Linked DNA regions of Homo sapiens: regions 2, 3, 4, 5 and 6 are each linked to region 1. The links come from fine-mapping of genetic effects on gene expression. A gene starts in region 1. Each other region holds a variant in brackets. All regions are shown on one strand. Distances are between the middles of the regions.

Region 1 (4,000 bases):
AAGGAAGATGAAATGTAAAGGAGCTCAGAAACACAGACACCCTCATCTAAAATGAAACTTTACAGTAACCCTCGGATGCCTGGGCCCACCCCGACACTTCCTGTAACCAGACACTCTCCGTTACAGTTCCTTGCCCTCCAAAAGGGGACTTTTTCATTTCATTGCTCAAACCACAATTAAGTCCTTGAGTCTGAAGTCAATTGCACTATCTACACCACGTAAATGACAGTCATTCAATTCCAAATTTCCTTCATCAAACCAACTGCCAGACCCACTGTCCTGGAGTTCTTCAAACACCTACGAATGTCCAACAGGCACGTTAATACTGAGATACCAGCGTCTCCACCTTCAGAGAACTACCCCCCACCCCACACACACCCCGCCATGCAACCTTCCACTCCATTTCTACTCTCAAACTTTCTAACGCACCATTCTTTCCTTCCTCCGAGAAGAAGGTAACTTACATTTGCAGCATAATTTGGTTCAAAAAGATGCCGTCCACTAAATCCATGTACATAGTCAGGTTGTCCTGGCTGCCGCTTCCAAACGGGCCAAAAGTTTTCACCTGCGGGGAGGGGGACGAGGAGAGAAAGACAGGAAGTCACCCCGTGCGCACAAACGGTCCAAAGCTCTCCCAGGCAGAGACTGGACGGGTCAGTGTGAGCAGAAGGGGGTCACCCACGCCCACACCACCCTTCAGCAGGCACCAAGCCCGGCCTTCTCCTAGGGCCTGTCTCCCCTCCCCGCGCGGGGCAACAGACACGAGACAGGAGGAAAAACTTCCTCGCCACTTTTCTCCCGCGTTCCAGAGCGGAAGAAATAAAAATAAAAAGGACTTTTCAATAAATGTCTCACGTCTCAAATCCATTGTAAATCAGTGCGCCCACCCCAGTCTGTTCGCTTTCCCATTCGGCGCCCCCCATTCCCCACCCGTCACCGCCATCCACCGGCTGGTCTCAGGGATTCAGAAAAACTACATGAGATATTTGGTTGGGAAGAATGGGGTCCTTTTCGGGAGTGGCTAAACCCCAGGGACAGGAGTGACCACTGGGACCCGGTCCGCCCCGAGGCAGCCAGCCTAGAGCCCCAGCGGGAACAGGTGTACCCGCCCGGCTCCTGGCCCGGCCGAAAGCGCGGCGGGGTCCCGCGCCGGACGCACAACGGGGGCGCCGGCTCCAGAGTTACAAAGCTCCGGACTCCAGGACGCGGCCCCAACCCCGGCCGGGAGCCACTTGCTGCGTCCCTCGCGCCCCGGAGCCACCCGGGGCCCCGGCCGTGTCGGGTCTGCGGCGTCCCGTCGCCGGGCTAGAGAGAAGCCGGTGCACCAACAAAGGGGCGGGGAGCCAGGCGCACTCACCCAGGTCACCAGCGGGCTCTGCAGGAAGAGCTCCAGGAGCTCCGAGACTGTCACGTCCATGCTGAGGCTGCGCCCGCCGGCTCCGCGCCCCCCGCCCCGCGTCCCCGTTCCCCCGCGCCGCGGCACAAAACGGCTCCGCAGCGAGCAGCGGGCGCGGGGCTGCGGCGGCTCGCGCCCGGGAGACAAAGGCGGGGCGCGCGAGCCCACGTTCCGCGGCTTCGGCGGCCCCGCGCCCCGCCCGGGTCTGGGGGAAGGGGAGGGCCAGCCGCTCGGGGAGGAACAATACGGGCGGCCCCGCCCCTCGGCGGCCCTGGGCGACCGGCGCGCCGCCTCGCGGTGCCAGCCCGGGAGCCCGGGAGCCCGGGCGCGGGACCAGGCTACGCGGGGCGCTGGGAGGGGACTGGTGGCCCGAGGCGGGTGGGTCGCGGGGCCCGGCTCCCCGCCCGTGGGACCGCGCGCCCTCGCCGAGCGCAGCCTCCCCGCGTGTGGGGCCCCAGCACGTGGCGCATCCCTGCGCGCGTGCGCGTGCAGCCGGGGCCCGAGCGCCACGTGCGAGCTGGGGTGCGCGGGCACTGGTGCGTGCCGGGAGCGGGGACGCCCTGCCCTCCGAGGTTGCTCTGCCCTCCGAGGTCGCCCGCAGCTGCCGCCCGCTCTGGGCTTGGGGACCTCGGCCCTGCGCCTTTCCGCACTCCTGGCAGGTGCAGCCCCAGGTACAGTCAAGAGGCCCCGCAAACCCCCGCTCCTCACGCTTGTGCGCGGCGCGATAAACGCGCCCCGACCCTGGGGCTGGGCTGGAGGGCAAAGAAGAAACTTTATGTTGAGTTTAGGCCTTAGGGGCGCGGCCCCTCGCGCCCTACCGTGCCCCACCGTGCCATGTTCCGGGCTGCCTGCCTTCTAAAAGTTCCTGCAGGAAGCAGGTGATGTGGCCTCCCCGACCCGGGCCCGCCCCCACCACTTTGCCGGAGGCGAGCTAAATTCCAGCCGGGGTTCCTAGCAGCAGCTTAGTGGCAGGCGACAGGAAAAAGGGCAAAGGCCCCAACTGGCTGGAAGGCAAGCCCGGGGGCAGGACCTCCTTGCGGGACGGCACGAGGCAGGAGCCGGCTCCAGGCTGGTCTCGGCCTGGTAATAATTTCACACCACCAGCCGGTCATTGTTCAAAGCACTGTAGACCATTTTACTAATTTAACCCTAACGATCGCCGCATTTCGCAGCTGGGCCAACTGGTACAGGGTTGACCCGAAGGGCCCTGCGTGGCGCTTGGCAAGTATACAGCAGGCACTAAATGGCTGCCGACAGGCTCGGTGGTAATTTTGAAAGTTGGCTCTGTGCAGCGTTGGGGCTGCGGCATCTGCTGGTGGCGAGTGGTATTACAGCCCAGCGCTGGCGGACCCCGTTGGGCTGGGGAGGGTTGTGAGATTATGGCCTGAGAGCCAAGGGGGTCGGTTAGGGGTCCCTAGAGACTGTGGAAGGCGGGGTAGCATAAAACACAATGGGGGACTGCGGAGGAACTAAAATTTCGAGACTACATGGTTTTGTTGTGCACCAGAAGTTCATTAGAGAAGTTCCTTAATTGCTTCTCCGCCCGCCGCGATGGCACTCGACCCCGCGGATTAATTTAACAACTCTGATGGTTGCTCTGTGAAATTTAAAGAACAGTGGTTTAAGCAAAGACCACAAGAAAGAAGAATTGAGATCAAAGAGGAGTGTGTGCCATCGCTGTGGAGGAGTTTCAGTTGTGAATCATGAAATGTCCTGTAAACCATTTCAAGGAGTTTGATTTTTATACCAAAAACAATGGGAAGACACTACAGGTTTTTGGAGCAGCAGCTCAGACGTGTCGAAAAAGATGTTTTGATCCCTAAAATAATGAGAGAAAAGGCCAGAGAGAGGTCTTCTGACAAGTTCAAGATTTTACCAAATGTTGCAAGAACTCTGGAATCCTTATGGTAGTAAAATGCTGGAAAGAAAATTCTGCATTGAAAGAATGTCTTAACAGCTCACTATAATGACCCAGCCTTTTATGAATAATGCAAAGTGGAAAACCTGAAGGAAAAGGAAGAATTCAGAAAAACTGGAATTTCTACAAAGAAAAGTCTACAGAAGCTGCCCACAAGTGTGTAGACAAATATTCAGATGACATTCAGGATCTCTAATACTCATGGAAGTCGTTTATAGAATAAACCTTAAATAATGGACTCAAGAATGTGTGTTTGCTAATTATGTGTGTATCCTAATTATGGAAATATTAATTTTATCTGAAATAAAAATCTTTTTTTCTTTTCTCTTTTTTTTTTTTTTTTTTTTTTTTGAGACAACAGAGTCTCACTCTGTTGCCCAGGCTGGAGTGCAGTGGCGTGCTCTCTGCTCACTGCAACTCCGCCTCCCGGGTTCGCGCCATTCTCCTGCCTCAGCCTCCAGAGTAGTTGGGACTGCAGGCGCCCACCACCACGCCCGGCTAATTTTTTGTATTTTTTACTAGAGACGGGGTTTCACCGTGTTAGCCAGGATGGTCTCTATCTCCTGACCTCGTGATCCGCCTGCCTCGGCCTCCCAAAGTGCTGGGATTACAGGCGTGAGCCACCGCGCCCGGCTAAAAATCTTTTATTTAAAAAAGTTCCTTAATTGCTCATAATGTAAGTTAGT
Region 2 (4,932 bases), 55 kb after region 1:
CTTTATGTGGTAGGTATGGTGCTCCACACAAAATGTTAACAATTCCAATACAAGTGCCAATAGTTGGGCAGTCTGAAAATCATCTAAAAGAAACAAAACACAACTAATTATATTTAATGACTAACATTTTTCCTTCTAAAATGTAAGAACTCAAATTCTAATCAAGTAAAATCTCTTCTATTAACCTAAATATATTAACTTTAGGGAGGAGGAAATTAGCATTTACTGAACGCCTAACATGTGCCAGGAATGGTGCTTTACTTTTTTTTATTTAATTTTAACAACCCTATAAGAAACTGTTTCACATTATGAGCCTATTAACTAACTAGACCCAAGTTGGAAAAGTTAGTAAGGCAGAGTTATGATACAAATCTAGAGTATCTGCCTTATTCCAAAATTCAAGGACCCTCTACCAGGTACCTTAGCATGTTCTCCAACAGATATAGCATATGAGGTTTTGCCAGACACCGTGTCATCTTTGGTGCAATTACTCTCTCTCCCTGTTCCCTTGATTCCAGTGTGTTTTGTGCCTCCTTTACTACTTGTAACGAGTCTATACTGAATTATAATCATTGACTTATCTTTACTCCTCACTAGGCAGCAAGCCTCTGAAAGGCTTTTTTTCATTCCCCCACGTTTAGATTATAACACAGTCCTTCACAAAATCACAATGAGTTCTCATCTTAATAAAGGTTGGAGGAATAGAACATGTGGTTTGGAAAGAAGCCTCAAGCTTTACCTAATATGAATAAAGCAGGTAAGAAAAATGGACATTCACATTTCATGGACTTGATTCTGGAGTTACACAAAAAGTAAATTTAACTTGTGTTTTATGTGAGTGCTATAATTATGCTATATTAAGAATTCAAGGCTGGGCGTGGTGGCTCACACCTATAATCCCAGCACTTTGGGAGGCCAAGGTGGGCAGATCACTTGAGGCCAGGAGTTTGAGACCAGCCCGGCCAACATGGTGAAAACCCTGCCTCTACTAAAAATATAAAAATTAGCCAGGCATGGTGGCAGGTGCCTGTAATCCCAGTTACTCAGAAGGCTGGGGCAGGAGAATTGCTCAAACCTGGGAGGCAGAGGTTGCAGTGAGCCGAGATCCCGCCACCACACTCCAGCCTGGGCAACAGAGCAAGATTCTGTCTCCAAAAAAAAAAAAAAAAAAAAAAATTCCAATGACAAAATAATGTATTTACTCCTAAAGCTTAAATAAGCAATTTTTGAATGTAGACCTAAAACTACCTCCTAAATTAAACACACGCACACGCACGCTAAAGCTCTAATGAATATAATACAAAAATAACAAACCTTAACATATCTTCAATATAAATAAAAGTAGCTTAATATTGTGCAAAAATCCTAGCTCTGTCTATACATCTGGAGTACAAATAATTTAAAATGAATTTTTTCATAGCTACTGCCTTCTATTTATATTTCACCAGTGTAGATGCAAACTGAATACAAATATTGTTCAACAAAAAATTATCTTATTTCTTTTACATGTTTCTGTTATCTGATTACAGTACTTTCAGGAAAATTGTTTTTTTTTTTTTTTTTTTGAGTTGAAGTCTCACTCTGTCGCCCAGGCTGGATGGAGTGCAGTGGGGCGACCTCGGCTCACTGCAAGCTCCGCCTCCTGGGTTCACGCCATTCTCCTGCCTCAGCCTCCCCAGTAGCTGGGACCACAAGGCACCTGCCACCACGCCCAGCTAAATTTTTTTTGTATTTTTTTAGTAGAGATGGGGTTTCACCGTGTTAGCCAGGATGGTCTCGATCTCCTGACCTCATGATCCGCTTGCCTTGGCCTCCCAAAGTGCTGGGATTACAGGCCTTTTAGGGACATTTTTGTCATGAACCTTTCTTTTCAAAATACATCATTAATTCTCCAGGTTGCTTTTGATAAAAACAACCAACCAACCAACCAACCAACCAAATTATTAAGACCTCTATGTTAACCTGATGGTTTGAACTTTTAAAGACTACTACTTTTTAAAAGGTGTGTCCTCCCAGCCTCTACCTCCCACTAACTGCCTCCTAAAAAGACTGACTTAACACCAACTTTGAATTCAGCATTCAAGAACAGAGAACTTAACTACCAACCTGAATTATCTTACCTTTACTAGGTTTGTCTTCTGTTGTATTTGCTAGTAAAGGAGCAGTGAGAACATGCATACAGTGCTTGTAGAAGAAACCCAGAAATTCAGTCTTTTCTGTTTTCTAAGGAAACAAGAACAATTCCATGAACTTTAACCACACTGGTTCCTACCAGCAATACACAATATACTAGCTATGAAAAAGAGGGGAAATGCTCATGGCTTACATTGGCAGTGGCTAGCATGTTCTCTGGGTCAACTAAAGTTCGAAGCAGGCCCATAAGCTGGACTGCTCCTCCAAGTTCAGGATCTGTATCACAAATCATATGTTCTATAATGAGGTTGATGAGCAAAATATCCTGGAGAGAAAAATAGACATACTCAGGATCACTTATTATGAGAGAACGGAAAAAGCAAAAACTAAGACACATACCACAGCATTATACCTAGGCTCTAGCTGTTTTGTTAACTGCAAAGTGAAATGTTTAACTCAGTTATCTGACAGGACATATGACAGTGTTTCATTCCCTAAAGTGTGGTACAGGGACATAG[C/A]CCTAAATAGAAATTTCTTGTCTATTATCTTTAAATTCCTCTGAATAAAGCAAAAGCAAAGTTTTAGTTTGGTGATAATATATCTTTACAACTTTCTAATAATGTAATCTACCTTTTGAAGAAAGCCAGTGGGTTTTATGACCATAGCTTTAAGAGTAAGAATATTTAGGTAGGATTTAGAACATCATAATACTTTCGTTGCTTTTATTTTTATTTTATTTTTTTGAGACGGAGTTTGCCTCTTGTTGCCCAGGCTGGAGTGCAATGGCACGATCTCGTCTTACTAACCTCCACCTCCCGGGTTCAAGCGATTCTCCTGCCTCAGCCTCCCTAGTAGCTGGGATTACAGGCATGCACCACCATGCCCGGCTAATTTTGTATTTTTAGTAGAGACGGGGTTTCTCCATGATCGTCAGGCTAGTCTTGAACTCCCTACCTCAGGTGATCCGCCTGCCTCAGCCTCCCAAAGTGCTGGGATTACAGGCGTGAGCCACCGTGCCTGGTCTATTGCTTTTATTATTATAGAGTCCTTCTATTTATGGCCAGTGATGTATGTTCTCCATTTGTAAAAGTGATATAAAATTTCCTTTTAAAATAAATTTAGGAAAAAATTATCTGAATGTCTGAAATTGGAGAAAATGAGACTATGGTATTTAGAGAGTGCAGAGAACAAATGGATTATACACATTCTAAATATCAAAGAAAAGAGATGGCTGGTTTTCCTGAGGTCCTATTATGACTGGTATTCCTCACCTAAGTAGTAAATAAGATTGAGAGGGATTCAGTGAGAAAATCCCTGCTCTTGCCTATGTGTATGCAAAGGCAGGATGGACAAGGGATAGAGAAAATGCAGACAGTAGATGGAAATGATGATTAAGAAGAGTGGGAATCAAGAGTCCTAGTGACTGAAATGTTATTCTGTTGCAAAACAGGAAAAAAAAAGAGTCCTACTGTGTGTATTTTGAGGTATATCAATACATGTTCATATGTTCAGCTCATGGGTTAATGGGACCAACAATAGCCTTTATTTTCAATAATACAGATACTTTGGTTCTCAAAGAATTTTTTTTTTTTTTTGAGATGGGGTCTGGCTTCGTCACCCAGACTGGAGTGCAGTGGAGCAATCATAGCTCACTGCAGAGTCAAACTCCTGGTCTTAAGAGACTCTTCCTTCTCATCCTCCTGAGTATCTGGGACTATGGGTGCATGCCACCATATCTAAGTTTTAAAAATTAATTTTGTACTAAAGGAGGGTCTTGCTATGTTGCTGAGGCCGATGTTAATATTTTATAAAAGAAAAACATGACACAACAGTTCAAACTGGTGCTTTTTTGCACCTATCCTGCACTATAAAAATAAAAACTTAAACATAGCAGTTACATGGCATTCCATTTCCTTTTGACATCACAATACATTAAATAGGATCTTTTCAAAAAGTAAGACAGTCTATTTTCCTATTTCGTAAAAATACCACAGGCTGGAATTCTAAACAGATTTTTTTTTTTTCCTTAGGGGATCTTTATTCCCCTCCTCCCTTAAGAAGGACCTGAGAGCAGGTCCTTCTTACTCATTCTTACGTAAAAAGTTGCTTCCAAATTGTTATGGGGGAAGCAGGAAAAAATCAGAATCATTGGTTCAATTATTTTAAAATAAAGGAGAGCACACACATTTAGTGCTCTCACATGTCACGCACTATGTGATCCAGGCGCACCCTTCACATTACCAGGATATATTCTCTACTACTTTAAAATCTGGTATATCTCAGATGCTAACGTGAGTGTTTGTGAACAACGTAACAGCTTGTTCTCTATGGCTAGGCAGTAAAGAAACAGCACCCTTCATATTTTAAGGGACTGTGCTACATTTCTTCATTCTTGGCGATTTTGAGAATCTACCCTAAAGTCAATGTTTTCCTAGGTAACTTACTCTTAATTCCCCAGATACAAGAATTGATTGACTAAATGATTTAAAAAACACAATATAGCAAGTTGACTTCAGAATTAAAACAAAACAAAACAAAAAAAAACTGACATGAATATTTTAAAAGGCAATTTAAATGAACATAAATAGTTGCTGTAGGACAAATTGATAAACTGAGACAGGAACCAATTTAGGGGAACAATAAGCTGTCTGATATTATGGCTACACTTTTCCCAAACAGCAACAATTAAATCTTAAAAGTGAATAATAAAAACAGTTATAGCTTCCTATGTATAAATACTTACTATTAGTACAAATAATATTTACCTTGCTGGTTATTTTTTGCTCTGTTAACTTCTTA
Region 3 (4,968 bases), 62 kb before region 1:
ACCTTGTCTCTTCAGGGTGCTTCCTCTGCTGCTGGAATGCGCACCCTCTGTAACCATCATAAGAGAGAGAAAACATAGGACAGAGGGCCAGGCCGCTGAACGGCAATTAATGAAACCCCAAGGCTCTTCTCAAAGGTTCCAGGGGCATTCAGACAGGACCCTGTAGGGTGTGCATATGCAGTCGCAGCCCCTCCAGGGCTTCCAGGAATCCTGCTTGGCATTTAGAATGTAAGAAACATCAGGGCAGACCAGTGACAGTAACCCTCTTGCTTGGAACCAGTGGCTTACTGTCCACAAAAGTAACCATCTGTGCAATTTATGGTGTGAAATCTGTCTTGCGCCTATGGGGACCTCCATGCTGTGTGCCTCTGAATGAGCTCCTCCGCTCTCTGGGCTGGGCTTCTACACCTAAATGGCTCGTTCCCTTCCATTCTAAATGGCTTCGGTGGGATCGGCCATGTGTAAGTCTGGAAACCACTACTATACTTGGATACAAACCCTGGAAGAAAAAACAATGCTTTCTTCCAGTGCAACTGTCCTGTGATTCATCGCAGAAAGTAATTTGCTAACACCCTGGCTTCCCGTCAGACAAATCTAGTCTTTTCTTGTGCGTGTGGCACAGTGACAGGCCTGGCTGCTGAGCAAGATGCTGAGAAGCCAGAGCTGGAGGGACCCCGGAGCTGGTCTAGCTCCATCCAGCATCCTCCCTCACAGCACAGACGTGAGCTCTTGCTTCTCACAGGCTTCTTGTAGAAAACACTCACCAGTAACCGCGAAAGATATTTAATAGCTGTGCAGCTGGCAAGATGGTGAAGGCGGTTTTCAGGGAGTCATCTCAGGCCTAGGGGAGACAGACACGTGGTACTGGGCAGAGAATGAATCTCACTTGACCCTGACCACTGACAACTGGCCTTCTTATCTATGAGAGCAAGTGGGTAACACCTGTCAGGGGCCCCAGCTTGACGGGAGAGCAAAGTGGAGAGAGGAAGAGAGAAAGGTGGGCCCCCTGCATGGATGCTGTATTTACTGAGCACCTACTACATGCCAGACACTGATCTAGGCATTCGAACGCACTGACAACAACAACAAAAAACCCCAGGATTCCTGCTGTCATGAGAGCGTGCACCCTAACGGGGGAAAAGTATGCAATGCCACAGAGGGGAAAAAATAAGTGAACAGTATAGGCTATTCACAGGTGCCAAAAGATATGGAGAAGGGAAAGCAGAGCAGAACAAAGAAGACAGGGCGTGTGGCAGGAGAGACAGGTGGGGCCACACTGAACAGGGGCTCACAGGAGGTGTTTACACAGCTCGCTGGCAGAGGGACCGGCAGGTGCACAGGCCCTAGTGCCCGGAGCGGGCTGCAAAATGACAGTCGGCTGACCTGAGGAGTGGGCTGCTCGGGCTGCCATGCTGGGAGCAGACTGCAGGGGGCAGAGGTGAGGACACTGCCCTGGGGAGCAGCCAGGCGGAAGCAGGGGAGCTGGTGGTGGTGAGGAGGGCTGCAGAGGAGAGCTCGGCTTCTGGGGGTGCACTGAGGGTAGACCCGGGACACCAGGCGACAGCGCAGACACGGGTAAGAGGGAAGGATAAGGATGGCTGAGGGGAAACAAGGCGAAGGACGCTCTACGGCACTCAGGCCCCAGAAGCCTGCACACCGCCTCACTATGGGGGCAGGCTCTTATAAGAGCCGTCATATAAAAGTGAGGGCGGGGTTCAAGCAGGGTCCAGCCAGAGCCCAGGCCGTGCTCGGAGAAGCAGAGACTACAGCAGTGAGGCACCAGACAGACCCTCCCCTCCCCGGGGGCGTGGGTGCAGCTGAGAGTGAGCTGCAAAACCACAGCACCATCAGAGCAGAAATCCAGAGACGGTCCCAGGGCAGACACAGCGTAAGGGAGTGAGGAGTTTGGGCCGGGACGGGCAGATGCTGAGGAGAGATTTCAAAAGCAATTTTCAGTATACGAAGTACTGTTTCATAGTTACTGCACTGTCCTTGACTTCCACCCAGGATAGGAAGAGAGTGAACACCCTTCTGTCTGATGGGTGTGGGGGGTTAAGTGAGACATACAGAAAAACTGTAAGTTGTGGCACCTCCCTTTTTTAGGTCAGAGAAAGGGGACAAATGCGTAGACTCTCAGGGTCTTTTAGTATCATTGTGTTGGGGAACAGTGGGTGGACCAGATGCTCTGTTGGGATCTGGAATCTGGGAGCTTGTGATGCTATGTGCCCAAAACAGAAAAGTTACCCCAAACTATAAAACGTTATAAATAACAGTACAGTGTTAGCATCCATCAAAAAGAGTACAAAGCAAGCCCCTCACACACGACGGGGATAGATTTAGTCAAAAAGCACACACATGCCCCACCCCGGGCAA[C/T]CATACAAATTAAAAAAACACCAACTTTGTTCTTTGTTTAAAAAGAAACGAAAAGAGCTTCACACATCTATTTTTACAATTTAAAACTGAAAATGCTATTTCATAAATACATCCCTCTGCCCCTAGCACTGGTGTCTGCATCTTCCTGCTGGTGGATGTCCGCTGCCAGCCTCCTCTGCTCTCAGAGCACCATGGGACCCCTGTCAAACCTACTCATCCGTGCACCCAGCTCCCCGTCCCCCAGCCCTGACACGTTGCCCTCTGTGTGCAGCCTGCCGAGGCCACCGTCTAGCATGTCAGTCAGCGAGGCCCGGGGCCCTCTGAGCCCTCGGTGATGGGTAGAGTTATTCCCGTCCTTCACTTTCCCAGCCCTCACTGTCCAGTTTCTCCAACTCCACCTTCAGAGCTGGGACCAGCTGATCCATGTGGGCTGATTATATACCACGGGGGCCCCAGGGACATTCAATTCACCTGTCAACAGTCTAAAACCAGCTTCCTCTTAACATTCTAAAAACTGAATTGTGGTTAGGGTTTTACAGCTTTGTATATTTATGAAAAAAAATCACTGAATTATACACTTACAATGGGTGTGTTTTATAGCATGCAAATGATACCTCAATAAAGCTGTTAAAAAAAAAAATCAGCATCCACATCTTTACAGATGTTTCTGTTTGGCAGCAGACCTGAGATGCGGACCTATGTTCTCTGCCCATGGACAATCTCTGTGGTGTTGGGAGGTGCCTGATGGTAGTGGGGCAGAGAGGGCAGGCTTCCAGATGGTAGTGGAAGGGGAGACACCTGCAGGGATGAGAAGAGGGGGAGCACCAGCAGGAAGGTGGGCAAGCTATGCAGGTAACATTGGAGCTAAAGGGAGGGGTGAGAAAAGGCGGGGAGAAGGATGCGTTTAATATTAGGTTCAACCATATGCCATTTTTATAGGTCAAAAAAGACTGGATATTGGCAATTGCCTACAGTTAAACCTAACCCATAGATGTCCATGTGTGACAGATGAAGAGGCTCAGGTTTGGGGGCGGACAGAGCAGGTTTCCAATCAGCCCCTCTGCTTACAGGCCAACTGGTCAAGGACATGGCACCCAAGCCCTCGGAGCCTCAGTTCTCTCCCTATAAACGGAAATGGGCGCAGCCACACCACAGAAGCACGTTTTCATTCCTTTAAATACAAATTTTAATTAACTAATTAAAGATGGAGTCTTGCCTGTCGTCCAGGCTGGAGTGCAGTGGCACAATCACAGCTTACTGCAGCCTCGACCTCCTGGGCTTAAGCAATCCTTCTGCCTCAGCCTCCTAAAGTAGCTAGGACTATGAGTGCGTGTCACCATGCCCGGCTAACTTTTTTATTTTTTGTAGAACTAGTGTCTCGCCAGCACGCTCGGTCTTTCATTGCATTTGTAACGCACGTTCAGTGCCAAGCACAGGGTGGGCGTGCTAAGGAGTGGCTGTCCCCTCCTTTTGCTCCTCCACTGTCTCCAGGGCAGACGGAGTGGCTGTCCCCTCCTTTTGCTCCTCCACTGTCTCCAGGGCAGACAGAACAACAGGACTAAGCTACCGCCAACCTCTACAGGCATCACTCTCATCTCCTCCCGTAACCAGCCCCAAATAAACTAGGAAGGTGGCAGAGTTCTGCTCAGCAAAACAGGCTCCACTTCCCTGAAGTTACCAGAAATCATGAGAGTCCCCCGGTCCCTGGAGCCCAGGGCTGTGGCCAGCATGGACTGCATCTGGCGTCCCCGCCCTTCTCTGGGGGAGCCATGAAATAAAGCCGGAACACACATGGCCCCATGGCAGAGCTGGCAGGGGAGCAGAACCAAAGGCCCCCTGCTACTAACACGGGAAGTGGGGGAGGGCGCTTGCTGCCGGGGGCCACCAGGAGGACCAGGGGTGGCCTCTGCAGGGTCTCCATGTAAGGCGGTGAGTGCCCACAGGCCAGAGCACTGAAGACTATCAGGGGTCCAGGGATGCTCTTCCTTCTGGCTCATGCAAAGGCGGACACCTCAGCCAGCTGGAGCCCAGAAAGAGCGCCCCCACGGAACAAGGAAGCCGCTGCTGATGTTCTCAGGGCGGTGGCACTAAAAGAAGACTGCTCTCCTACCAGCTTTGTCCTCGGCTGGTTACTCAGTGAACTCTTCTAAAGTCTCAAGGCCACTAGCTACTGTCATACGGACAGGAGAGGGGATGGCCAGGCTGCAGTGAGACCAGGCTGAGGAGACGCCAACAGAGGAAGCCCGAGTCCCTTTTGGAAATGTCTCTAATGTTTAGGATTCACGGTTTATTACCATCCTACAGGTGTGGCTTTTCCTGTGTTCCTTGACCCCTCACCTACTCCAGGAGGCCCCAGACCTAAGGTTTCAAAATGATGACAAGGTCTCCATCAGAACAAGGGAAGTCCTAGCCAGCGAGTAACTCTGTCCCTGGGGCCTGCGACTTCTGTCCACCAGCTATGGGTGCAGGTAAACACACACAGGTGAAAGGGACGCAAGGCATTACTCCATTTAATGCACCAAGGAAGTTATCTGACAGGCAGAGATTAAGTTCTGACTTTCTGTAAGATGCCAGGAGGACATTTAATTTGGTCTT
Region 4 (4,968 bases), 44 kb before region 1:
AGAAAGTGTGGCCAGAGGAAACTACGGTATGCATGCAGGGTGGGCTGGGACAGGCATGACCCCCCCAGCCAGAATGAGTGTAGTGGTCCCATGGGAGGAGCCATGTGCTGTCCAGGCCCAGCCAACCTCACCCGCCGGTGGCAGGAGTACAGAGGCCGGCGGTGGCAGGAGTACAGCACAGACCAAGACCACAGTCTTGGTCCCGAGGAGCCTGTGGAGTCACAGACTGGGACCAAGACTGCCTCCCACACCCTCCAGTCAGGGGTGGCTCTAGCTGATTTCCTGGGCAGGCACCTATCTGTCCTGGGCACACCCTCCCTAGCTCAGCAGAAGCAAGGCCTTCCTCGTCCCAGCAAGTAGCTGGGCTGGGGGAACGTGGCGCCTGCCCACACAGTGTCCCATGTCCCACTCCACCGCTCACCCACCCAGGCCCACAGGCACCTATGCCAGGGCAGGGCTGGGGCCACGCCACACCCTGGCAGCCCTCACCCGGTGGCCTGACAATGCCGCTTCACTCCCAGGCACAAGTCGGAGCAGGATGGTGGAGGGCACCTAGGAGCCTCCAGCGGTAGATGGCAGCCCAGACCACCCCAGCCTGCTGGGACCTGTGAGGGTGGGAAAGGCAGGCAGTGGGGGCAGCCAGCCCCCAACCTCACGCCCCAACCTGAGCCCAGGCCTCAGGGTACGAGCACCACAGCACAAGGGGTACCAGCACTCCCGAGTGACCAGGCCTCCTTGTCCAGTGTCCCAGGGCAGGCATCTGGAGGGCAGGGAGAGCTCCTTGAGGAAGGGCAGCCATTCCCTCTCTCATTTATGCCACACTTCCCGGGCACCTGCTGGGTGTCTGATGGCATGCCAGTTGGGAGGTGGAGGGTATGAAGCCAAGACTGCTACCCTCAAAGCCAGGAAACAAAGACAAGGAGGACAAAGCCTGTGGGATGGGGGACAGTGAGGGGCCCAGGGTGTTTGCTATAGGGCCAGGCCCTGTCCTGGGGAGCTCACAGCCTGATCCCACCAGCAAATCCCACCAGCAAGTCTGGCACCCTAACAGAGGGATGGCAGGCACCTGAGCTGGGGGCACTGGGAGCAGAGGAGAGCGGGGAATCCAGAAAAGCTCCAAGAAGGAGGTGGCCGGAAGCTGAAATGGGAAAGAACAAGGAGCAGGTGACATCCAGGTAGATGGCAGTGGTGCGGGGGGGGGCGGGCGGGGGGGGGAGGCGTGTGTTAGTGCAGGGAGGGCTAGGAATAAAGGAAAAGGAAGACACAGAAGGTGCCCCCATCTTGTGTCTCTGGCTACAGTCCCACGATGAAGGACAACTGAGAACCAGATGTGCACAGAACCACCGTTCAGGGAGTCTGGACCCAGCCCTGTCTGCACGTTATCTAAACGGTGACAGCAGCAGCTTTGGAGTCCCCTCTGCCGGCTCCACCACCACGTTGCTGCTGGGCCTCGGCATCAAGCCCTGCCAGGTGGCCAGAAAGGCAGGTGGCCGGGCAGGCAGGCATCACTTAACCTAGCGACAATCAAGCCTGTGCCTGGCATGAAGTCAGGCCCCCGGAGGTGCTGGCTGAACCTGAGGCCTTTCCTAGCCGTCAGGTTTTGCTGGGCACTGTGCTCTCAACATGCTCCGGGGCGACACACCATCCTCCCTCCTGCTTCAACACAGGGCAGCTCTGCAGGGGGCAAACACAGGAAGCCACAGTCACCACAGTGAGCCCATAAAGGAAGACAGTCCCAGCTACCTGTGTGTGCGAGGAGTGGGGTCCATTCTAGAGATCCCCAGGAATGCACAAACCGTCCCCAGCCCCTGGGCTCAGGACCAAGGAGGAAGAACTGAGCTGGGACATCTGCTGGGGCCACCTTCTCTCTTCTCCCTCTGGCCTCAGGAGGGCCAAGAAAAACACACACGATACCAGTGCCCTATGGTGGTCTGGACTCAAGAGAGCTGGCTTGGACGCTATGCTGAGAACACTAGGGGCAGGTCTGGCCCTGGGAGCAAGTGTGCCACGGTTCATCAGTGACATCTGCCTGGGGCCAAGCAGAACTTGTGCTGGTCAAATAGCAAAGGATGAAGAGAAGGAAAAATTCTACACACATGGGAACCATGAGTCTCCAGCATGGATAAATAAGACTGTAATTACCCCTCCTTAGCCCCCACTCGCTCCTCCAAAAAAGCTTTCTGGAGGAAACAGACAGCAGAGCAGACATTTCATGCAAACTGGTCTCTTTTCATTACAGGAGTTTGCAGCAAAAGATCAGACTTCATCTAGAGAGCAAGAAACTCTCTATTCTATCACCAAGAATGTATTCTATAGCAGGAAACTGGGGGAGGGCA[T/C]ATCGGGACACAGTTGAAAAGCCGGGGAGGAGGAAGGTTCAGAAGTGACAAGTTTCTAATGACTAATATCTCGGCAGGAAGTGAAAATCTCAAAAGATGTTATCAACTTTGCAGCAGCTGTCCAAGTTGGGGGGTGGGCAGGGGTTGGAGGTGACCTGGCAGCCCAGCCGGTCCCCTGCCCACCCGCACCTGACAAAATCCTCTCTGTCCAGCCACACTTGCCTCCAATGCCTTCCTCAAACCCCTCCGCCGGCAATGATCACTTCCTCAGCAATCAGTGCCCCCAGGCCCCTCTCTCGTGTCCCTGCCTGAGTCCCACACAGGGAACTGAGATCCTCAGGGTCCCCAGGGCAGATGCTGGAACATGCTCACCTCTGAATCCCCCCAGGGCTCTGCACAGTGTGGCCCACAGCAGATGCCTGCCAGCTGCTGGCTAAATGGAACTGGCTGCGGGGAGGAAGGCTCTGGTGAGAACAGAGGCTTTTTGGGACCTCCAACTAAACGCACCCTCCCCCATCTACAGTGTAAAGAACACTTTATTTCGAACAGCAATAAATCAGCATGCTGCATAAACCAGGAGCTTGGCTAGACACACTGTGTCTATTACCTCTCATCCTAACTCTTGCAGGCAGTAGCAGGGTTAAGTCCACCAGGTATCTGCTAATGCAAGGTCCATTTGATCAATAGGTATTTTTCATTGCTTGGAATATTGGAGTAAATGAGAGGGCTAAAGAGGTAAATATATGTCACATGTGTGTGTTAAGAAGCAAAATAAAGGAACATAGGAGGAAGTGACAGAAAACATAGCTCTTACAGACAGGTGGTCAAAGAGGGCCCTCGATGAATCGTCAGCTGAACAAAATGCGAGTGTAGGGAGGGTGTGAGCCAGGTGGACGGGTGGAACTGGAGAATCCCAGGCAGAGGGAACAGCCAGGGGCAAGGGGTTACAGCCAGAACAGGCCGTGCAGTCCTGCTGAGCACAGAGCCTGGGGTGGCCCAACCGACCTTTGAGGCCATTCCAACAGTCTGGCAGCATCTGCAGTGGTCTCTGCAGTCAGGCTCATTCCGAAGCCTCAGGAGGCACAAGGAAGTCTCACACAAGTAACTCACTGTGATCCCAGGGGTAGTTTAAGCTTGGGTTCCAGGCACAGATGACTGGTAGTGGTTACCTAGAGTTCTGTGTTGAGAAGGATTCTGAGGCCAGATCTGGGCTCAGAGACAAAGAGGGCCAAGATCGGTCAATGGTGCCTGTCAGAGCCAGGAATGAAGATGTGGTGACACTCCCTTACGGAGCCCAATGGGACAGGCACTGTAACACGTATGTGGTATACAACATGCCGAGGGGATGTGGGCAAAACACCAGGAACTCTCTTCACTAGTTACGAAGCTACAGACTGAGTTTCCTCTGCTAAACCAGCCTTACTCTTCGAGTCTCCTTCTTGGGCTGTGGGCTCCTGAGGGTGGTGATCTGGGCGGTCTCGCTCCCCAGGGCTCTCCCAGGGCCTGGCACACAGCAGGGCTCAGCCATCATTTGCCAAATGAGCTAATGAAGGGCCACAGGCCCCAGGGTTAGCATGCGCGCGTGTCTGTGTGTGTGTGTGCGCGCGCGCATGTGGGAGAGAGAGAGACAGGCTGTGTGAACAGCCTGAATCTAAAGGACTGGGACAGAAACAATGCCCTTCAATTAGACCAACTGGACCCCTGCTGTGTGAGGCTCCGACCTGAGGACTCCAAAAAAAATCAAATCAGATGAAGCTTATTCTTCCTTTTTTCCTTTAAGTAGGGAAGCTTTTCTTCAGATGTGGGTGAGGTGGGGAAGAGGGGGGTGGGCAGCGGAATCAAAGAGCGTTTTCGGGGAAGGAGGGAAGGGCAGGCGCACAGACCCGCCCCGGCACCTGCTCACGAGGCAGACCAGCTGCTCTGGCTTCCCCGCAGGGCCGGCCGAGAGCCCACACTTCAGGCAAATAAAAGCACCCTCACCAGCTGTTCCCATGGCCAAGCCAAGCAGGATGGCAGTCTGTGCCAGCCCTGCCTCGGCAGCAAGTGGACTCTTCCAGCCCAAGCCACGAGATGAGGGGAGACTCAACCCTGTCCGTGCCCGGAGCACCTTCCCTGTGCGAGGCTCCTCAGGGCGAGTGGGGGGCAAATGTCTCCTTCTGATCTGACCCTTTCCAGCAGGCATGCATCTTCTTGCGTTCAATGGGGCAGGTGCCGTAACTGTGCCCATTTTACAGAGGAATAAACTGAGATACAGACAGTAAGGATGTGCCCTGGGGTCACATGACTACAAGTGGCGAGGCTGGGGCTGGAAACGTAGACCTTCCAGCCCCGCGAGTTCACAGGAGAAGAGGCTTGAACCCAGTCAGCCAACAGCCAGCAGCCCAAATGTATCTGCGGAGGAGACCTGAGGAGCTGGCAGGCGCAGAGGACCCTTTAGGCTGTGGCAGCCAGGAAAGGCCACACTTGTCACTCCCGCTGCTGCCCCCCAGGACAGGGTGACGATCATAGGTCAGGCTTCTCTCCTGTGAGCTCAGAGCCTCCTGAAACACCCAGGTGCTCGTCGCCGGGCATATGCATGTCTGGCTGGTGGTGGGGGCGCTGTCTGCTCCTGCTCCCTGACCTTGGTCGCCAT
Region 5 (4,087 bases), 25 kb before region 1:
CTGGGACAAGGTTCCCAGGGTCCTTGGTTTCTCTGAACTTCTGTCTCCTCATCTTTGAGATGAGAATAAATGCCACCTAGTGAAGGTGAAGACTGAAATGGGAAGGAAGTAAGGATTCTTAGCAGCAGTCCTAACACCCACTGCCTTCAACACCAAGCGCTTAACACAATGGCAGCCACACACCAGAATGTTCTAGAAGCCTGAGAAGCTTGCCCATTCACTGGCACCTGTGTGTTGAGCCTCATGCTGGACCCAGGGAATGCAGAACACAGTTCTTTTAGTTTACCATCATCCTCACAGTACAAACTCTCTTCCTGCTAAAAACAAAACAAAACAAAAAAAAAAACCCACTGGGTGCCCGTTTTTAATTGTGGTAAAATATGCATAACCTAAAAAAAAGCTTAAAATGGTTAAGTTTTAAGTGTACAGTTCAGTGGCATTAAATACATTTATGCTGTTGTGCAACCATCCCCACCATCCATTTCTAGAACTCTTTTCATCTTGCAGAACTGAAATTCTGTACCCCTTACACAAATAACTCTCTGTGTTTCTTGCTTTTTAAAAGTCAGAAGTAGGCCGGGCACAGTGACTCACACCTGTAATCCCAGCACTTTGGGAGGCCGAGGCGGGCAGATCACTCGAGGTCAGGAGTTTGAGACCAGCCTGGCCAACATGGTGAAACCCCGTCTCTACCAAAAATACAAAAATTATCCAGGCGTGGTGGCGTGTGCCTGTAATCCCAGCTACTCGGGAGGCTGAGGCAGGAGAATCGCTTGATCCCAGGGGGCTGAGGCTGCAGTGAGCTGAGATCATGCCACTGTACTCCAGCCTGGGTGACAGAGCAAGACTCCGTCTCAAAAAGAAAAAGAAAAAAGAGGCAGCTTCCTAAAAGACCAGAAGTTACATGTTCCTGAGTGTACTATATTCCTTTTTCTTGTTTTTAAAATTTTTACTCTACTCTGGAGCTGAAAGTCCGCTTTCCAGCTACTTTCTTTTTTTTTGGAGACGGAGTCTTGCTCTGTCGCCCAGGCTGGAGTGCAGTGACGCAATCCAGCTACTTTCTAAACTCTTTCCAACTAAATCTGAACATACACTTGGATCTCAAAGTTGCCTCATGAGTTCACTCCCTGGCTCCATTTGGCTGTTCCTGACTCTCTAGTGCCTCTGGGGCCTCCAGGGTAGCAGCTCCCATGGCCACCATGACAGCTGCTCCCACTGACCCTGTTCCCACGAACACGGCCACCTCCAGAGGTTCCAGCTCTCCCTTCCTGAACCTGTACCTAGGAGGAGTTCAAACAGACCCAGAACTTAACATGCTCTATAAACTCTGGCTTCAGATCACCCTTTCCTACATGCCACCCCCAACCCTGCCAAAACAAAACAAAAGCAACAACAAAAATCCCTATCCAGGAAACCTAGAGGTGGGAGTCGGTGGACATGGAGCTCCGAGGGGCTGGCTTCAACCACCCAGAGCAGGGAAGGACACCTTAATTAGGGCTAGAGGAGGAGAACCTTTTCAAGGGGAAAGAGAAACGAGAGAGGCTTCAGCTGGTCACATTTCCAATTCCTTTCTGTTCAAAAGGAATGAGATCAAAAGGCTTGTCAAAGTGGCTTTGCCTTTAGAAATCAATTTACCTCATCTTTTAAACCCAGAGCCGATAATAACCCAGGGTTTCCATACCAGCGATGCATAAAAGAAGGAACATTTTAAAGCCCAGCCCAGCCCGAGGACCTGGCCCTTTGGAGTTCTTGAAGGCAGCACCAGGGACCCCAGCAAGGGCGGCCCCTCACTGCAACCCCTCACTGAGCCCCCTCACTCTCACCACGCCCCTCACTCTCACCGCGCCCCTCACTCTCACTGCACCCCTCACTCTCACTGAGCCCCCTCACTGCACTTCCTGGGAGAGGCAGAGGCTGCCGGAGTCCCCGCCCTGAGTGAGTCTGCAATGTAGGGTGGGACACAGAGAAAACAAGTCAGGGCCAGGGGTGTGATGAC[G/A]GCGATAATGATGTTAAATTCCAGAGAGTCCTCAAGGCCTCACATAGCGAAAAAGGAAAGGTGCTGGGGAAGGAGAAACTGCAAGGACAGGACGTGTGAGGCAGCGGGAGAGGGAGAGACAGTACCGGAGTCCGCTCCCGGAAACGGCCCCTGGGCACTGGGCTGGGCATTTCCCAGGCACCAATCGCTCACTGGCTCTCTCAGAATCACTGCAACCCAGGGAGGGGAGTGCAGTCATCACCCCCATCTGACAAAAGAGGAACAGGCTAGGAGGGGTTGGGCCGCTTGCCCCAGGTCACACCAGTGTCAGGGCAGCCCTGGAGGACAAGAGGAGCTGCCCCGGGAGAGGCTGAGCTGGGAGATGACAGGTCCAGGTGCCAGCTATTCTGTCCGCAAGTAGGATGGGAGCCCCCCCACCCCCTAAACCCCCAGCCCTGCAGGCAGAGGGGCAGATGAGGCAGAGGCAACCTGAGCGAATTCTACCTCCCGAAGGAAGAAACAAGGGCAAGGTAGGAGAAGGGGTACAGACAGAAGCGCCCTCCCAGACGGCCCACACCTCAGCCCCGATCTGGCTTCCTCTGAAGGTCTGGACTACCTGTTTTGGATTAACTGCCCCAGGTGGTTATCAAAATAGCCCAGAGTTCTCAGAAACCACCAACGCTTCCTTCTTCTGGCATCTAAGCTTGGGATACTCGCCTCTGCAACTTAGTCCATTTCCACCTGAAATATTCAACTTCCCAGCCTGTCCAACATGGTGAAACCCCATCTCTACTAAAAAATACCAAATTAGCCGGGCATGGTGGCCCATGCCTGTAATCCCAGTTACTCAGGAGGCTGAGGCAGGAGAATTGCTTGAACCTGGGAGACAGAGGTTGCAGTGAGCCGAGATCGCACCACTGCACTCCAGCCTGGGCGACAGAGCGAGACTCCGTCTCAAAAAAAAGAAATCAACTTCATGAGCTCTACTCCGTAAAATCTGAATGCCACAAATTCTCACCCTAAAAACAGGGTGCTAGAAGACCAATTGAGCACAAAAAGTGCCAGCTGCTCCGGAGTTTCTGTCCTTTAAGTAGCCACAATTCCACACTTTAAAGGCACGTAAATCTGACTTGCTGGGCAGAAGGTGAGCCTGTCTGGTTACTAAGGTTTGGAAAGGAGGCAAAAATTTTAGTCTTAAAATTTTAAAGTCATTCAGCCTAAACCTTAGAATGCTCAGGGGAGCCAAGCTGGCTAGACAAAGTTGAAAACAATCAATTTAATTTCCACCCCCCAGGGACTGAGCCTCCCAGTACCTGACATATGGCATTTCCATCAACAAAGCAAACACCACATGAAAAGCCTACAGGTCTGCGTGAAAACAGTAGGGGAGCCCTAAGCTCCAGCCCAGCCCCCTCACTGCATTGCACCTCCATACCGGTTTACCCCTGTTTACCCTCTAAACAGTCAGGGTCTGGGTCCCTGCCATGTGTCAGGGACACAGAGGAACAAGGCAGGCCCCATCCTCTAATTATTCAACAGTCTAGAAAGGGCAGCAGGTCGGGGGCACTTTGCAGGGTCATTTTAACCTAGAGACAGGATTCCCGGCCCAGGCCTGGTGTGACACCGTGCTCCCTGATTGTAATGACTTATTCTCTGAATTATTTACTCCACTGAATGGTGGCCTCCGTTGTTATGTATCTTGTCATTAACACATGCTGACTGACGGCAGACACATTTCCATGCTGGTGTGACAGACAAACAGAAAGATTCAGTGCCTGCTTTTAAGGAATTCTATTGCTGGTGAGGGATAAAATCATGAGGCTTCCTTTGATGAGATAATATGTGTAAGTCACTCAGCTTAAAATAAAACGATCATACAGGAGAAAAACGTGCAGGGCTAGAGACAGGCACACGTGCACACTCGCAAGATTAATCCAAATGAATCAGAGCGCATTACTCCGGGAGGGGTCCTTGGATAATCCGCTCAGTAACAAATGAACACAGAGTGGCCAGGGGACGGGCCTTGGGTGGGGGGCCTGCCTGCCACCCCTCTGCCAGACGGGTGGGCATCCTCCCCTCCCACCCACGTGTCCCCTGAGTACAAGGCCTTTG
Region 6 (4,968 bases), 94 kb before region 1:
GGAGGAGCTCCCACAGGTCAGCTGGGGACCCTTCCTCCTGCCCCTCCACTCCCAGTGCCCGAGGGCTCCTCTGCAGGCTTTGCTGGGGTCTGTCAGGGCAGCAATCCAGGGCTCAAGAAGGCGGCAGGTTACAGTCCAGGAGCCAATGCAAGGGCTGTGTCACTTCTGGGAACCATCTGGCTATCAGGCTGCTATCCTAACTGTCCAATCAAGGATTTTAGAGGCTAACAGAGATGACACACAGGTGACATTTTCCATACCCCCCAGAGCATAATGGACATCTCGGCTGCTCAGCAGGCAGGGGCACGTAACTGACCACTCCCGTTGGCCATGGGTGGTAGAAAGCTACACTGGAACATGTGTCGGGCACTTGTCAGCCTGGATGAGATGCTATGCAGAGATTTCTTTCTGTGACTTCACAATTATGTTGAAGAAAACTGTGATAGTGTATGCAAATTACTTTTAAAATTCTAAATGAGATGAAAAATAAGCTAAAAATAGTAAAAGGCAGACTATCTACTCTGCTTTTAAACAGCTCAGGTGCAAATGGAGAAGGGAAGAGTCTTGAGTCAGGAATGGGAGTTCCTGGCCCCCTCCTGCCACAAGCAGGTGCATGATTTTAGGTAAGTCATGGGGTTGTTTTGGGGAGGGGAAAAAAAAAGGTATGCAAAAGCCCTCTTAAGAAAGGAGCCCGGTTCTTCCCCCCTTCATTTACCCAACCCAGTGCCACGTCCTCATCTCTTGGGGCCTTTCCACACTGTTGCTAATACAGCGATTCCTCCCCCTACCTCTTCACCCCAGGGGCTGTGGGTACAGGGGGGTGATGGCTTTCACAGCAAACACATAAATCTGGAAATGTGTGTGGTTCAGATTCCCCGGGTGATCATAAAGACTGAACAGCATCTCGTTTCCCTCTGAGTCTTCATCCTCTACCAAGGATAACGACATGGACCACCCAACAGGCCAGAACGCCCTAAAGACCCAAACCAACAGCAGGCGAGAAGTGGAGGGGATGGTGTGTACCTGGCCCCAGCCCAGCACTGACACACACATAAACACACACACACTCCACATACAAGGACGCTTGGAGGGCTCCATCCCAAATAAGCTGTAAATGAAACTAACCTAACTTCAACACCAAGCCTCAAATAAGACTCCATTATTTCAAAACCTGTGGTCATCTGGACAGTGTCTCTGCAGAATTCATGGGGGTGAACCCATTTTTAAAATTACAGAAAAATATATTTAAAAAGTACCATTTTAGCCATTTTAAAGTGTTTGGATCTGTGGCATTAGGTACAAGCACACTTTTCTGCAACCATCACCACCATCCCTTTTCACCTTCCCAAACTGACCACAGAGATTAATTTTTAAGGTTCTGTGAGTTAAACAATGGAATCGATGTTTCATTTCCTCTTCCATTAAAGTCAGTGCCTTGAAGACTATTAAAACGACACAATGGTTTACTACTAAAACGCCAGTGTTTCTCTTTTTTTTTTTTTTTTTTTGAGACAGAATCTCACTCTCTCACCCAGGCTGGAGTGCAGTGGTGTGATCTTGGCTCGCTGCAACCTCCACCTCTCAGGTTCAAGCGATTCTCCGGCCTCAGCCTCCTGAGTAGCTGGGATTACAGGTGTGCACCACCACGCCTGACTAATTTTTGTACTTTTAGTAGAGGCGGGGTTTCTCCATGTTGGCCAGGCTGGTCTTGAACTCCTGACCTCAAGTGATCTGCCCGCCTTAATCTCCCAAAGTGCTGGGAATACAGGCATGAGCCACTTTGCCCGGCCCAGTGTTTCTTTACTAGTGCAAATCTCGTCAGCACCCCCCAGCAACCAGAGTAACTGGGTATGTCTTAGTAAGACAGACAAGAAGAGCTGCCCTCTACAGAACACACCAAGGGCCAGAGCCGGGGTTCCTGCTTCACTGTTTTCTCTCACTCATCCTCACAGTCATCTTGTGAGGCAGGTTCATTACCCCTATTTTGCAGGTAAGGAAACTAAAGTTTTAAGAGGTTAAGTACTTGCCCTAGGTCACCCAGCTAACCAGCAGAGAAGCCAAGGCTTTATGCCAGGTCTTTCTGGCTCTCGAAGCCACTGCCCCATACACTCAGGCTTTGCTTGCACGATGCCATCATTCTAGCAAACACTAGAATGATGCCAGCTCCTAGCTAGGCACTAGGAGTTGACAACACTAAGAATAAATCACGGTATTAACTTTAAAGAGCTCACACATTATAGAAAATGGTCTAAATCGGTGAGGCCTTCTCACCAGCCACCATGGTCTCTAACAAATATTTAGTTGATGAGAGACCATCCTAGCTGCTTGTACCACCTCTCTGCTCCACCAGGGGGCGCCCCCAACTTGGACTTCCAGAGGCAAGGGATTTGGGGGAACCCCCTTGTGCAGCCCTCAGGCCCCAGAACTACGCACAGATATCAAAGCACAGACAGCTAACTTCTCACACAGATTCACAGTGAAACTGGTTTTAGGTTCGGAACTGATAGGAACCCCCAAATGCAAGAAATATTCACCTGTTTCCAATAACCTTTCCAGAATGCTTAGATGTCTATCAGAATTTTTTAAAGCCACCCACTAAACAAGCCAAAAGCCCCATCACACCCTGGAAAGTCTAAGTAACTATGAACTTGCACGATCACGTGCACGGGAACGGTGAGCGTGTGCTATTTTCAAACACAG[G/C]AACTGGCTCATTGTTTGCCGGGGCTGAGGCTTCCTGCGCAGGGGGCTGAGTGCGGCCCCGCCCACGCTTCCCATGACCGACACCTCCTCTCGGGGCGCGGGGCAGTGGGCAGCAGAGCAAGCCCAGGAGGGAAGAGGGAAAGGGAGAGGCCTGGCAGAGGCGCTAAGAACCTGGGTCTCCGGGGCAGCAGCCACTCAGCACCCTCCCCACCCAGGAGAGAGAAAACAGGCTGCCTCCATCTTGCCCAATTATGCAAATGAATGGAGGAAATGACGCCCTGGGTACATTTATAGCAGGGATTCGTGGCCACTGGTGATGGCTCCTGCCATCCAGGGCTTTCAGCCATCCACAGATGGCCTCAGAGAGCCTCTGGGTGTCAGTGCACTATAATCTGGAAGCTCCCGGGAATGTCCATATGGGAATTCGGAAAACTGGCAACACTTAATTTGTGTTTTGCGTCCTGACATCAAGGCTGCCAGACCCCTCGTGTCTTCCCTGGGGAGAACTGTAATGAAACAGTTCCAAGTGGAGCTTGAAGGAAATCATGTTTGCCTGGGATGAATGGATGGGCTAACATGGCAGATTCAGAGCCCAGGACTCAGCTCCCTGGAGGCAGCGGCGGCCACGGCCAGGCTGGCTCCCCGGCACCAGGCGCTACCTACCGTCTGACAAGTCTGCGTTCTTGGACAGCTGCTCCAGCTCCCAGCCAAGGTGGGCAGATTCGTTCATGCTCTGCTTCTGTGCAATCTCAAGGACCATGTTTTCTTCCAGCAGCTCCTCAATTCGTTTCTTATCTGTGTCCCGGTCCTGGGGCAAGCAAGAAGAGGCAAGAAGTGAGGCTGCACAGCTGGAGATCCCCCTGGACAAGCCTCAGCCCCTGTATAGCTACCGTCATGTGCTGTGGATGAAGATGTACTGGCTCACTTCCAAATAAACAGAGCTGCACAGAAACATCCCAACACAGGGCCCTGCTATGAGAGGGAAAGCCACTCAAAGGTACCCTGACCTGGCTACCTAGGTTATGAAGACAGACCCGGCCGGGGTCCCTAACTGAATGCTGTCTGAACAAAGTGACATACTGCACAGGGCTTTAAAGCAAGTGTGCAGTGATGGGCAGCTCTGTGGCTCTAGCGAAGCCCTAACAGGCCTCTAAAGCTGTTAACAGGCTAACAAATCACAGCTCACCCCACACCATCAACACTGGCAAAGACCCTTCTTCCAAGACACACACACACACTCATTCCTACAGAAAAGCAATACAGAAGTCAAGTGCTCTGTTTGTGGGTGTTAAGTGGCACCCGCTCAAGCCTGCTGATTTTAGCAAGCTACTCCCCGCAGTCAACAAGTCATTCGTGGTAGCAGTGGCAGCAGCAACGGCAGTAGCAGCAACAAACCCAGTAGCTAAACTATCAGAGAAGGGCACGCCATAAACCTGAACCTGCCCCAATCGGTTTTCTTTTCTTTCTTTCTTTTTTTCTGAGACAAGGTCTTGCTCTATCACCCAGGCTGGAATGCAATGGTGTGATCACGGCTCACTGCAGCCTCAACCTCCCAGGCTCAAGCAACCCTCCTGCCTCAGTCTCTCCCAAGTAGATGGAACTACAGGCTCACACCACCATGCCCAATTATTTAGTTTTCGTAGAGATGGGGCCTCGCTAGGTTGCCAGGGTTAGAACTCCTGCGCTCAAGGGATCCTCCCACCTTAGCCTCCCAAAGTGCTGGGATTACAGGCATGAGCCACTGTGCCCGAGCCCAATCTGTTTTCAATGTAGTAACAACACAGCCTGCAGTACCAATTCCAGGTCGTGAAGCTTGGATTTCAGCTGCAGGTTCTCCTTTTCCAGCTCATGGACTTTATCGCCCCGGGCCCGAGCAGCAGTCAGCTGTTCCTCCAGCATGGCCTTGGTTTCAATTAAAATGATATTATCTTCTCTCAGCTCCTGGTTAGCAAAAACATACATGAGAACCATCAGATAAAGGCACCTGGGTCATTAGGATGGAATTCTAAAACCAAAACTCTTTCAGGCATCTGGACCCAAGCAAACAATCTAGAGGGAAGTCCGAGGCAGGAAGTTTTTCCTCTACTTTTTTTTTTATCATCTTCACCTTTTTTTTGAGACGGAATGTCACTCTGTCGCCCAGGCTGGGGTGCAGTGGCGCGATCTCAGCTCACTGCAACCTCCACCTCCTAGGTTCAGCAATTCTCCTGCCTTAGCCTCCCAAGTAGCTGCAATTACAGGCGCCTGCTATCGCGCCCGGCTAATTTT

Alleles and levels. Positions count from the first base shown, and alleles are read on the strand shown. Sizes are in standard deviations (SD) of each study's normalised expression. Not every link is listed here.
In carriers of allele A in region 2, the expression in unexposed skin of the gene that starts at base 1,547 in region 1 tends to be lower than with C alone (moderate effect, 0.46 SD a copy in GTEx).

Evidence for each region.
Region 2: its variant is fine-mapped to the expression of CCDC88C in unexposed skin (GTEx, PIP 0.97). The same link has a PIP of 0.9 or more in whole blood.
Region 3: its variant is fine-mapped to the expression of CCDC88C in whole blood (TOPMed, PIP above 0.99).
Region 4: its variant is fine-mapped to the expression of CCDC88C in whole blood (TOPMed, PIP above 0.99).
Region 5: its variant is fine-mapped to the expression of CCDC88C in esophagus muscle (GTEx, PIP 0.95).
Region 6: its variant is fine-mapped to the expression of CCDC88C in whole blood (TOPMed, PIP above 0.99). The same link has a PIP of 0.9 or more in atrial appendage, subcutaneous fat, thyroid, tibial artery, tibial nerve and visceral fat.

Annotation. Positions count from the first base shown.
Region 1 is chr14:91,416,274-91,420,273 of GRCh38, forward strand. CCDC88C (coiled-coil domain containing 88C) reads right to left here and starts at 1,547. Exons shown (of 30, transcript NM_001080414.4): 1 at 1,358-1,547; 2 at 465-565. The coding sequence starts at 1,417. CCDC88C-DT (CCDC88C divergent transcript) reads left to right here and starts at 1,973. Exons shown (of 3, transcript NR_184261.1): 1 at 1,973-2,067. It also overlaps the pseudogene LOC112268126. RefSeq lists enhancers at 1-122, 133-422, 2,028-2,672, 2,913-2,962 and a silencer at 1,043-1,962.
Region 2 is chr14:91,470,913-91,475,844 of GRCh38, forward strand. It overlaps PPP4R3A (protein phosphatase 4 regulatory subunit 3A), which reads right to left. Exons shown (of 15, transcript NM_001366432.2): 7 at 4,899-4,932; 8 at 2,327-2,458; 9 at 2,121-2,223; 10 at 1-83. Among named protein-coding and RNA genes, the nearest start is that of PPP4R3A, 37 kb to the right of the region's middle. The variant C/A (reference allele first, on the strand shown) is at 2,652.
Region 3 is chr14:91,353,697-91,358,664 of GRCh38, forward strand. The region is part of intron 4 of CCDC88C (coiled-coil domain containing 88C); the gene reads right to left. Among named protein-coding and RNA genes, the nearest start is that of CCDC88C, 62 kb to the right of the region's middle. RefSeq lists an enhancer at 1,202-1,712. The variant C/T (reference allele first, on the strand shown) is at 2,374.
Region 4 is chr14:91,371,337-91,376,304 of GRCh38, forward strand. All of the region lies in intron 3 of CCDC88C (coiled-coil domain containing 88C), which reads right to left. It overlaps LOC107984673 (a long non-coding RNA gene), which reads left to right. Exons shown (of 2, transcript XR_001750858.2): 2 at 1,300-2,915. Among named protein-coding and RNA genes, the nearest start is that of CCDC88C, 44 kb to the right of the region's middle. RefSeq lists enhancers at 417-1,029, 2,633-2,702, 4,165-4,837. The variant T/C (reference allele first, on the strand shown) is at 2,337.
Region 5 is chr14:91,390,923-91,395,009 of GRCh38, forward strand. The region is part of intron 3 of CCDC88C (coiled-coil domain containing 88C); the gene reads right to left. All of the region lies in intron 1 of LOC105370624 (a long non-coding RNA gene), which reads right to left. Among named protein-coding and RNA genes, the nearest start is that of CCDC88C, 25 kb to the right of the region's middle. The variant G/A (reference allele first, on the strand shown) is at 1,997.
Region 6 is chr14:91,321,416-91,326,383 of GRCh38, forward strand. It overlaps CCDC88C (coiled-coil domain containing 88C), which reads right to left. Exons shown (of 30, transcript NM_001080414.4): 11 at 4,495-4,641; 12 at 3,364-3,508. Among named protein-coding and RNA genes, the nearest start is that of GPR68, 79 kb to the left of the region's middle. The variant G/C (reference allele first, on the strand shown) is at 2,701.